4 separate regions of the Homo sapiens genome follow, and regions 2, 3 and 4 are each linked to region 1. The links come from fine-mapping of genetic effects on gene expression. A gene starts in region 1. Each other region holds a variant in brackets. All regions are shown on one strand. Distances are between the middles of the regions. Region 1 holds the start of PDE2A (phosphodiesterase 2A). Region 2 overlaps PDE2A (phosphodiesterase 2A). Region 3 overlaps PDE2A (phosphodiesterase 2A). Region 4 overlaps PDE2A (phosphodiesterase 2A).

Region 1 (2,752 bases):
GGGAGCAGGACGCCATGGTCCAGGGCTGCAGCTTCCTGAGCCCAGAGAATGCCTTCCTAGCTGTCAGGAATGGAGCAGCGAGGCCCCAGTGATAGGTGAGGTGGAGAAGCAAGACATGAGTTCTGGGCTGGCTCAGCTGCTTTACAACCAGCCTGGGCCTCGTTCCCTTTGAGAAAATGGTTTGCCCAGAGTTCAGAGATCTAAAATTCTATGATGCCTTCTGGGGCCACAGTGGGAAGCAAAGACTCCTCATATTTTCTTTCCTGACACTTCCCAGGCCACAAGACAACTGCTTTCTGCAGCACCCAGCCTGGGCAGGCCATCTACACAAGCTCAGTCATTTCTGACCTTGCCCCCTCCACCGTGCACCCCCATGTTCTTCAACATGGGTCAGGTTTCTATTCAGCCTCAGGGACTTCTCTGCTTGAAGCCTGTTGTGTGGCGGGGAGGTATTCTCCCCACAGCTCAGAGAGATGGGGTTGCTGTGGAGGGTTTGCTGTAGCTCCTCTACCCTGGAATATACCCTCTTCTGCCTTAAAAGACCCAGCTTGGACCCTCTCTTCCAGAAATGCTTGCTAACCGCCCCCCCACCACCCAAACTAGGTCAGGGGTCCCTCTGGGCTTCACAGACCCTGTGCTTCTTTCTGTCACAGCCTGCAAGTCTCCCCTCCCCACTCCCCAGCCCGAGTGCTTCTCTGAGACAAGGGATAGTGTGAGCCATGAGCTCAGCCACTGGTAGGCCAATGAATAAGTAAGTTAATGGTGAAGCCAGGATCCAAATCCCCATTTCCTGCCTCAAGGTGTGGAGCTGTTTCTCCTGCATACAATAGTAGCTCTGCTGTGACAACTCTCTATCTGTCCTAGGGCCTAAAATGCCTCTATTTCACTAGGTTATAGCTTTATCCTAGGGAGTCCTCTTTGGAAGCAGGGTGGGGGTGCAACAGGCCTTCCCCCATGCCTGTAGTCTGTGAGCAGCGAAGGCCATGTGGGGCAGGCTGTGGCCTAGGTCTCCACAGATCCTGGTAGAAGTCCATGCTCACGCATCAGCTCCAAGTCCCAGCTAAACCAAGCCACCAAGAGGTGGGCCCTGTGACAAGGCTCTGAGTCCAAAGGCCATCAGTAAAGCCCCCTAAGTCTTCCGTGGACCCAGCTCCAGGCTGGGATGCACGCTAGGAGATGATACACACCGGGTGAGGGAGCCCAGAGGAGAGGGCAGCTAGCTGTGCATGGAGGCCTGATCTCTCAGACTTGAGGGCACAAGCGTGTCCCCTCATCCTGAAGGCTTCTGCGATGGGGCAGCAGAGGGTCTGGGTCTGCTGCCCCTCAAGTCCCCAGCCCCATCCTAGCCCATGAGGATTGTAAATCCCTCGTCCTCTCCCCTCTCTCCTCTGTCAGCCACTCCCCTTTCCCCCTACCCCACTCTCTTTCTATTTCTGCCTCTGATTTTTTTTCCTTTTCTGCCTTTGTTCCTCTGTGTGTGTGTTTCTCTATGCCTCTCTGGTCTCTTTGTACTTCCATCTTGATCTCGCTAAGGCTCTGATCCCTCTCTCCTCTCCCTCTTCATGTGTTACTGTCCCCCTTCCTGTCTCTGTTTATCTCTCAGTCTCTCTGTCTGTGAGTCTTTTTTCCTCTCTCCCAGTCAGACTCTCTCTCTACCCCTCCCTCTCTCCCTCTCTCCCTCTCTGTCTGGGCCTCTCTCTGTTCCTCCTCCCTCCTCCCTCCCCCTTCTGCATTATCAGACCTGCTCCAACCTCCTCCCAGAGCCAGCCGAGCAGCAGAGGCAGTGGCAGCGGGAGAGGCGGGAGCAGCGGGGCAGCAGAGCTGGATTGGGGTGTTGAGTCCAGGCTGAGTAGGGGGCAGCCCACTGCTCTTGGTCCCTGTGCCTGCTGGGGGTGCCCTGCCCTGAACTCCAGGCAGCGGGGACAGGGCGAGGTGCCACCTTAGTCTGGCTGGGGAGGCGGACGATGAGGAGTGATGGGGCAGGCATGCGGCCACTCCATCCTCTGCAGGAGCCAGCAGTACCCGGCAGCGCGACCGGCTGAGCCGTGAGTATAGTGAGGGGCTGGGGTGGTGAGCGGCTGTGAGAGGTGCCACAGACAGGGTCCTGGGAGTCCCTCCAAGGAGCTGGGGTTGGCATGGAGCTGAGCCACGTGGAAGGATCGATCCTGTTCCTGGGCACCCCTCCTCCCCGCGTTGCCAGACTGCAGCCTGGGGTGGGGGCAGGTTACCTCTGAGCAGAATGAGGGTGTCTAACGTCAACCTAGTAGGTGATGAGGCTGGGGTCCCATGGAAGGGGCTGCTGGTTGGAGGAGGGGCTGATAATGAACCTGAACCGGTTCTTCAAGGGCTGAGGGTGTATGTGGGGAGGGGGAGGTCTGCCAAGTAGTTGGGAGGAGCTCTCGGGGCTGCAATAGGCTGGTTCAGGACCCGGAGAGGGAGAGTGTCTTGGCCCACCAAGGCTATGTGTGTGTGAAGGAGGTGGGGAGGGGGAAAGATGGAGAAAATATGAATAAGAGTGGCCCTGGAGCAAGAGAGGGTTAGAGGTAACCACCTTCCATGGAATTGGGAATTGGGGTTCAGGGACACCACTTTATGAAACTTTACCCCAAAGCGTCTGTCCCAGGATAGGGTTCTACGGAGCCAGATGGAATATGGTGCCAGCCTCGTGTGTGTCCACGTGCAGGGGGGTGCATGTGCAAGTGAGTGGGGGGCGCCGTGGCGACACCCCTCTACTAAGGGCTGCCGAGGTGGT
Region 2 (2,500 bases), 71 kb after region 1:
CACCGGCATGCTGTGAGAACTACTGCGAGGCTGGACCTGGAATCCCAGCATGCTGGGCCTGCAGGAGCTCACAGTGCCAACTCCTTGCATCTGAGAACAGGGAGATCACAGGCAGCGTCCTGCTGAGGGTTCTGGAGCCCCACTGCCTGGGTTCAAATCTCAGCTCCCTGTTTACTAGCTGTGTAACCTTGGGCAAATGACACAACCTCTCTGTGCCTCAGTTTTGTTTATGAAATGGTGATAATAATGGTGCTTATAGGATTGTGGGGAGGATTAAATGTGTCACACATGTAAAGCATTTAAATCAGGCCTGATCCATGGTGAGGGCTGTCTGTTGGGGATTACCATTGTGAGAGAATGCTGGAATCACTGACTTCAGGATCATGGGATCAGGGCACTTGGCCCCCTGATACCTTGATGCCCATTTAATTCAGCCTCCTCATCTTCCAGATGGGTGGATATCATGAGACATGACCAAGGCCACATGCCAGGTATGAGGCAGAGCCAGGCCTAGGACTCGGGTCTTCTGACTCCTGGCTGTTTAGGGGAAAGTGAGAGGAAGTGGAACTCATCAGATGAGAAAACCTTGGGGGCAGGCATGCTGCTGGGAGGAGGCAGGCTCTGAAGGATGTGGCCATTGCCTGCTAAGCACTGAATGCAGGGCCATTGTGGGGCCCAGGGAGCACTGGGCAGGAGCTGAGGGCAGAGTGGGCACCAGTGGGGATGTCCCAAGAAGGCAGCTCTCTACCCCTGTGAGGAGGGCTTTTCCAGCAGGCCAGGTGGTCCAGGGATGTGGCTTTTTCAGGTAGCAGCTGAGCCTGGCAAGCCACTCACCTTTCACAGGGACCATGGAAAGAATTCCTGTTTGAGGATGCTGGACTCATGGTCCTGAGGCCCCTCCTTGTGCTGGAAACCCTGGTTTCTAGGATGCTGGTCTCTCCTCAGCCCTTTCCCGTGGAAGGAGTTGGTTCTGCTCTGATAGCCACCTTCCCATTTCCTATTCTCCCACTGAGCTCCTTTCACCTTCCCCTAACAACTTCTCCGTCAAGGAGCATGGGAACAAAGCCATTACCACCTCTCTCTAGCCTTTGTGTCCCGTCTGTAAGAGGATGGTCTGAAAGGTCTTTAGAACCTTAAGGGGAAAAATGTGGTCATGTCCCCCTTTCTCCTCTAATTCCAAAGAACTTCGCTCTCCTCCAGCATCCCCCACCTCTAATTCTAAAGAACTTTGCTTCATATAAGCTCCACTCCTCCAGGAAGGCTCCTCGGAGCAGCCTGGGAGGCCTTCCTGGGAGGGATGCAGGAAAACAGGCTCAGGAGGCAGCGGGGAGCAGCCTGCAGGTTTGCTTCACTCCCTAGGACCCACACATGCTCCCCTCAGCTGTCTGGGCATGTAGAGTGGGTGCGTATCTGCGGTCCAGGCATTTTTGAGAGGGCTCAGATCCTTGGCATCAGCTGCCCTTTCAACATCCTCCTTCCAACCACTTCAGACTCAGTAAGGCCTTTGGAAAAAATACCAAAAAAAAA[AG/G]CAATTAAAAGTGAATATTCAAATCCAATTATCCCAGAGCTCAGTGGAGATGGGGAGGTGAGTGCCTGCTGGTAGACAGGGGCTGAAGATTCCAGGAGGAGGGCCAGGGGATGAGAAGGCAAGAGAGTGAGGACAGCAAGGACCTCCCAGGGGACATACCCATCATCAGGACACACCCGTCATCATCCCCAAACAGGAATTCTTTCCATGGCCCCTGTGAAAGGTGAGTGGCTTGCCAGGCTCAGCTGCTACCTGAAAAAGGATTGGGGGAAGGCCCAGGCCCAGTGCTCTCTCTGGTATCTGAGCTCTGCTTGCCCACCTTTGTGCCTGGTGTCTGGTGGTGAGCCCATCTCCACAGTTAGGGCGGAGAGGCCCCAGGGTTGGCTGGGCCCTGCTCTCAGGAGCTCCCAGCAGGATGGGGACTTGAGACCCAGGTGTATGGACGAGGGAAGAGCACTGGAATGGGATTCAGACAGGTCTGGATTCTAGCTCAGCCCCCTCCCTGTCTCTCTGCTTTCCTACCTGAGGCCCGGTCTATTGGCTTAATGGGGTAACAGGGGCCAAGTGCTTGGCACAGTGCCCAGCACACAGTAGGAGCTCAGTGATTGCTACTTGCACTCCCAAGTCCCAACCAATGATTAGCCTTGAGTGACCTTGAGAAAACGACTTCTCTTCTGGCCTTTTTTCTGTGAAATGGGTGGGGTTGGGTACAGGGTCCTTCCGATGGTGACCTTTGTGGCTCTGGTCCCCCCAGGAGGGAGAGGGACTGACCTACAGGCTGCCGTGGAGCCTGAGGCTCTAGCAGTGCCCGAGGAGGTGGGGGTGTGGGGAGGGTGCTACTCCAGGAAACCCTGGACTGTGGGCAAACAGCAGCAGGTGTGGCGTGGAGGCTGGATCATAGAGACAGATAAGGAGGCCCGAGGCAATGGGCAGGGAATGGGATCAGGGCAGTGTGGGGAGAGACAGGGTGGA
Region 3 (2,752 bases), 97 kb after region 1:
GCTCACTGGGATGGGCAAATGGGTGGGGGTGTCCAGTAGGAGGGCATGACACCCCTGCCCTCGCCTCAGGACTATCAGCGCATGCTGGATCTGATGCGGGACATCATCTTGGCCACAGACCTGGCCCACCATCTCCGCATCTTCAAGGACCTCCAGAAGATGGCTGAGGGTGACTGCTGTTAGCCCCAGTCCTTGGGGCTGGGGAGGAACAACCAGGGGAAGGATTTGCCAGGGGAGCATTCCCAGGGTGCAGACCCATCCCCTGCAACATCAACCCTTCTCTGGCTGCACGGCCCCCCCCAGGCAGACCCAGCACTGGCCCCTTGGCTCCCATCAAGGGTGCCCAATTCCCTGGACCGCTCTGGGTTGGGCCCTGGGAGCCTTGTCCTCAGAAGGGCAAAGAGGCTGGGCCCCGCTCCTTGACCCCATCCTCCCCTCAACAGTGGGCTACGACCGAAACAACAAGCAGCACCACAGACTTCTCCTCTGCCTCCTCATGACCTCCTGTGACCTCTCTGACCAGACCAAGGGCTGGAAGACTACGAGAAAGATCGCGGTAGGTGTAGTCCTCCCTGGGAAGGCACAGGCTGCCCACCCTGCCCAGCTTTGGGTGCCCCCTGTGCCTGAATACCCTCTCTCTGCTCAGCTCAGCCTGGCTGTGTTCTGGGGAGACAGAAACCTAGACCATCTCAGGGTGACAAATGGAGACTCAGAGAGGGGAACAGACCTAGCAAGTCAGTGGCTGGTGGAAGGTGGGCCCCAACCCAGCCACTCCCTGCCTCAGGCCATCCCACTGCCAAGCTGGGGCTGGTGGGGACGGCTCCTGAGCTGGGACTGAATCCCTGGGCCTCAGTTTTCTCTCCTGGGAACGGGCTGTCAGAGGAGCTTGGGTGGATGTATCCTACATAGAGGATGTGATGAGAGTGTTGGCCTTTCAGGAGCTGATCTACAAAGAATTCTTCTCCCAGGGAGACCTGGTATGTGTGGAGTGACCCCAGGATGTCCAGGATGGGGGAGGGTTCCTGGCCTGGGACAGGGAGGGCTTGAACTAGCCTGACCCTGGTACCCGATGGAGGAATGAGAGGGACAGGCCTGACGACTCGATGCCTGCAGGAGAAGGCCATGGGCAACAGGCCGATGGAGATGATGGACCGGGAGAAGGCCTATATCCCTGAGCTGCAAATCAGCTTCATGGAGCACATTGC[A/G]ATGCCCATCTACAAGTGAGTGAGCTCATGGGGACAAGCTGCACCCTGCACAGAGAGGGTAGGCTGGAGTGGGGACATCACAGGAAACACAGGTGCTGAGATTGGCCTGGCCCAGGTCCAACTGATTCATCCCCTTGCCTCTGGGCATAACTGTCTCCCGCTGTGCCCCTCAGTGGGTCCTTCACTTCATCCTTGGTCCTCAGTGGAAAGAGACCATCATGCTTTCCTAGGTGTCCTCCTCTGTCTCACATTCTTGTGGAAGTTCTTGTTTTTTTTGAGATGGAGTCTCACTCTGTTGCCCAGGCTGGAGTGCAATGGCACGATCTTGGCTCACTGCAACCTCCCCCTCCTGGGTTCAAGCGATTCTCCTGCCTCAGCCTCCCAAGTAGCTGGGATTACAGGCATGCACCACCACGCCCAGCTAATTTTGTATTTTTAGTAGAGATGGGGCTTCACCATTTTGGTCAGGCTGGTCTTGAACTCCTGACTTCAGGTGATCCACACACCTCGGCATCTCTGAGTGTTGGGATTACAGGCGTGAGCTACCGTACCTGGCCCTTGTGGAAGTTCTATTTGTTGTGTAGCCCTAGTCTTTCTTGCTGCCCATGGTCTGATTTCTGGCCTCTCGCCCTCTGCCCCCCATGCACCCGCAGGCTGTTGCAGGACCTGTTCCCCAAAGCGGCAGAGCTGTACGAGCGCGTGGCCTCCAACCGTGAGCACTGGACCAAGGTGTCCCACAAGTTCACCATCCGCGGCCTCCCAAGTAACAACTCGCTGGACTTCCTGGATGAGGAGTACGAGGTGCCTGATCTGGATGGCACTAGGGCCCCCATCAATGGCTGCTGCAGCCTTGATGCTGAGTGATCCCCTCCAGGGACACTTCCCTGCCCAGGCCACCTCCCACAGCCCTCCACTGGTCTGGCCAGATGCACTGGGAACAGAGCCACGGGTCCTGGGTCCTAGACCAGGACTTCCTGTGTGACCCTGGACAAGTACTACCTTCCTGGGCCTCAGCTTTCTCGTCTGTATAATGGAAGCAAGACTTCCAACCTCACGGAGACTTTGTAATTTGTTTTCTGAGAGCACAGGGGTGACCAATGAGCAGTGGGCCCTACTCTGCACCTCTGACCACACCTTGGCAAGTCTTTCCCAAGCCATTCTTTGTCTGAGCAGCTTGATGGTTTCTCCTTGCCCCATTTCTGCCCCACCAGATCTTTGCTCCTTTCCCTTTGAGGACTCCCACCCTTTGGGGTCTCCAGGATCCTCATGGAAGGGGAAGGTGAGACATCTGAGTGAGCAGAGTGTGGCATCTTGGAAACAGTCCTTAGTTCTGTGGGAGGACTAGAAACAGCCGCGGGGCGAAGGCCCCCTGAGGACCACTACTATACTGATGGTGGGATTGGGACCTGGGGGATACAGGGGCCCCAGGAAGAAGCTGCCAGAGGGGCAGCTCAGTGCTCTGCAGAGAGGGGCCCTGGGGAGAAGCAGGATGGGATTGATGGGCAGGAGGGATCCCCGCACTGGGAGACAGGCCCAGGTATGAATGA
Region 4 (2,500 bases), 79 kb after region 1:
ATTCCTCTTCATCTCTGTCTCCTTCTTTCTCTTGCTCTGTGTCTCTAGCAGTCCCTCCATCTAATTCTCTCTCTATTGTACTACTAAATTCTCTGAGCCTCAACTTCCTGACTATAAAATGGGACAATAGTATTTACCTTGAGGGGGTGTTTCAAGGAGGTGCAAGTGAGATCATGCATGTTAGGGGCCTGGCACAAGCGAGGGCTCAGTGGCCCGTGGCTGTGGTTGTGATGTGCCTGTGCCTGATGCTGGATGGGGCTGTAGTTGTTCTCACATTCTCTCTGTCACTGTCATTGGCCCTATTTCTCTTTTTCTTCTCCTCCATGCCTCCTGTCCGCCATGTCCCTCTCTGCCTCGTGTCTCAGTCTCTCTAGGTCTCTGTCCTCTGTCTCGATGTGGAAAGTGCACAAGACTGGGAGTCAGGAGACCTGACTTGCTGTGTGATCTTGGGCAAGTCACTTCCCCTTTCTAGACCTCAGTTTCCCAATCTGTAAAATAGAGGTGCTCAGCCTCACCTGCCTTCCTCCCTGCAACCCTGGGAGGATCACAAGAAGGTTGTGAGTGAAGGGGTTTCCTTCCATGCAGAGGCTGTTGCTGTGGTTGTTTTTGTTGCTGCCTCAGGACCCGCCTCTGTGTTTCTGTGGGTTTTGGGGTCTCTGTGTGTCTCTGTCCTGGCCTCTCTTTGTCTGCATCTTTGTCTCCCCCACCTGGGTCCCGGCTCGGTATCTCTGAGCCTCGCCAGCCCTGCAGGAGCACCTCATTGCCCTCTCCCCCTCAGTGCTGGTCATGCCGCTAGCGGACAAGGAGGCTGGGGCCGTGGCAGCTGTCATCTTGGTAAGAGCCTGCCTAGGCGGTGGGATGTAGGGAGAGGAGACCATGGGAGGGAGTGGTGGATGGAGCCTGTCCAGGGTGTGTGTGTGTGTGTGTGTGTGTGTGTGTGTGAG[A/T]GAGAGAGAGAGAGAGAGAGAGAGATGGGAGCCATAAGCGAGGATGGAGTGAGGGGAAATGGGGGTGTGGGGGTGGGAGGAGTTGGGGCATCTCCCACACCCCAGCCTTCTGCCCCACCTCGAATAGGTAGGATGAAGCCATTGGCCCAGTCAGCAGCTTTCTGAGGGGTGTGCAAGCCCCTGCTGGACTCTCAGCCCCCATAAGGTTAGAAGGCCCAGCCTTTGGCGTACGCAGCACTAACCTTGGTTTCTCTTTGGGATCCTCCAGATGGGGTGGGGATAATGTCCAGGAGGGCATGAACCAAGTGAGGTGTGAAGAGAGATGCTGCGGAGGGACAGATGGACATAAGGGCCTGACCAATAGAGATAGTGTGGAAAACTAGCCAGAGATTTGGAGTGGCTGGAGCTGGGGGCCTTGAGGAGAGAAAGGCCATGGTCAGGCCAGCCAGACCCAGGGCTGAGGCTGGGCGGAAGACAGGCAGCTAGGGGGGCTTTCTGGAGTGGCTGAGGAAGGAGTGTTAGTGGGAAGTGGTGGATGCTCTGCCAGAGCCCCAGAACCCAGACAAGCCTCCCTCTGCAGCCCCTCGAGGAGTTCCCAGGGTTTCTGCTCCGTGGAGGGGATTGTGGAAGTGCAGAGCCTGTGGGGACGGGATTCTGCCGCTCTTTCCGTTTCTTCTCCTGTATGGAGGTGGGGGTTCAAACTCGTTCTATCCTAGTAACCAAAGGATGAGTTCCCCAAATTGCTATTATTGGGGGTCTGCTTCTGTCGAGGGGGCTGCCATTCCAGTAAAGGGCAGGCTTGGGGGCATGGACAGATAAATGAGCAGGTGTTGGTTCCCCGGGGACTCCTCTCCAGCTCATTAAAATGGAATTAAACGCTTCCCAGGCGCCTGACCTTTCTGAGCTGCTGGCAGGAGAGGGCAGTGGGAGTCAGGGATGGCTGAGAGGGGAGGAGAGGGGGGAGGGGAGGAGGGGTACTTGGCTGGGTCTCCTCTGCACCCATCTTCCTGACTGAGGGAGCCAAGGCCGCTGCTTGGTTTCTCCGCAAGCTGCTCCCCCCACCCCCGGTTTCTGGAACGGAGCTGCTGTTGCACGGAGTTCTCAGGGGGTCGCCTCCCCCTATTCTTTGCTCTTGGTCTGCCCCAGGGCTGGTCAGCTTTGAGGGGCACTGAGGTGAGGGGCTGTGTGCAGAGGTGGGGATTGGGAGGTGGTGGCTGGGTCACGCACCTCCTTCTCTGCTGAGGGCAAAGGGCCTGGGGTGCCAGGTGCCTGAGAAGGACTTCCTTAGATTGAGGCTATGAGGACTGGGTCAGGAGGGAAGTAAGGGGAAGACATTTGGAAGGTTGCTTCCCTTGTGGGCGGAATGCTTGCCATGGCCGCTGCTCACCTTGGCTCAGGCTGGGCCAGAGGCCAATGTGTGTGTGTGTGTGTGTGTGTGTGTGTGTGTCTCAGGGACGCTGGTGGGATCAGATCACTTACACTTAACTCACCCAGTAGAACTCTGGTCTGGTCCTGCGGCAGGCTGGGTGCTGGAGCCGACTCTGCCTTCAGGGAGC

What was found. PIP is the estimated chance that this variant, and not a neighbour inherited with it, causes the effect. A credible set is the group of variants that fine-mapping cannot tell apart.
Region 2: its variant is the best candidate, but not a certain one, in a credible set for the expression of PDE2A in whole blood (INTERVAL, PIP 0.53).
Region 3: its variant is the best candidate, but not a certain one, in a credible set for the expression of PDE2A in blood mononuclear cells (TOPMed, PIP 0.62).
Region 4: its variant is the best candidate, but not a certain one, in a credible set for the expression of PDE2A in whole blood (INTERVAL, PIP 0.66).

What each region holds. Positions count from the first base shown.
Region 1 is chr11:72,673,430-72,676,181 of GRCh38, reverse strand. PDE2A (phosphodiesterase 2A) reads left to right here and starts at 1,760. Exons shown (of 31, transcript NM_002599.5): 1 at 1,760-2,045. The coding sequence starts at 1,975. RefSeq lists enhancers at 36-536, 687-1,311, 1,312-1,938, 1,939-2,564, 2,565-2,752.
Region 2 is chr11:72,602,317-72,604,816 of GRCh38, reverse strand. All of the region lies in intron 4 of PDE2A (phosphodiesterase 2A), which reads left to right. Among named protein-coding and RNA genes, the nearest start is that of MIR139, 12 kb to the left of the region's middle. The variant AG/G (reference allele first, on the strand shown) is at 1,528.
Region 3 is chr11:72,576,701-72,579,452 of GRCh38, reverse strand. PDE2A (phosphodiesterase 2A) reads left to right here. Exons shown (of 31, transcript NM_002599.5): 27 at 70-169; 28 at 444-556; 29 at 939-977; 30 at 1,114-1,220; 31 at 1,859-2,752. The coding sequence ends at 2,069. Among named protein-coding and RNA genes, the nearest start is that of PDE2A-AS2, 6.5 kb to the left of the region's middle. The variant A/G (reference allele first, on the strand shown) is at 1,206.
Region 4 is chr11:72,594,927-72,597,426 of GRCh38, reverse strand. It overlaps PDE2A (phosphodiesterase 2A), which reads left to right. Exons shown (of 31, transcript NM_002599.5): 6 at 779-834. Among named protein-coding and RNA genes, the nearest start is that of PDE2A-AS2, 12 kb to the right of the region's middle. The variant A/T (reference allele first, on the strand shown) is at 945.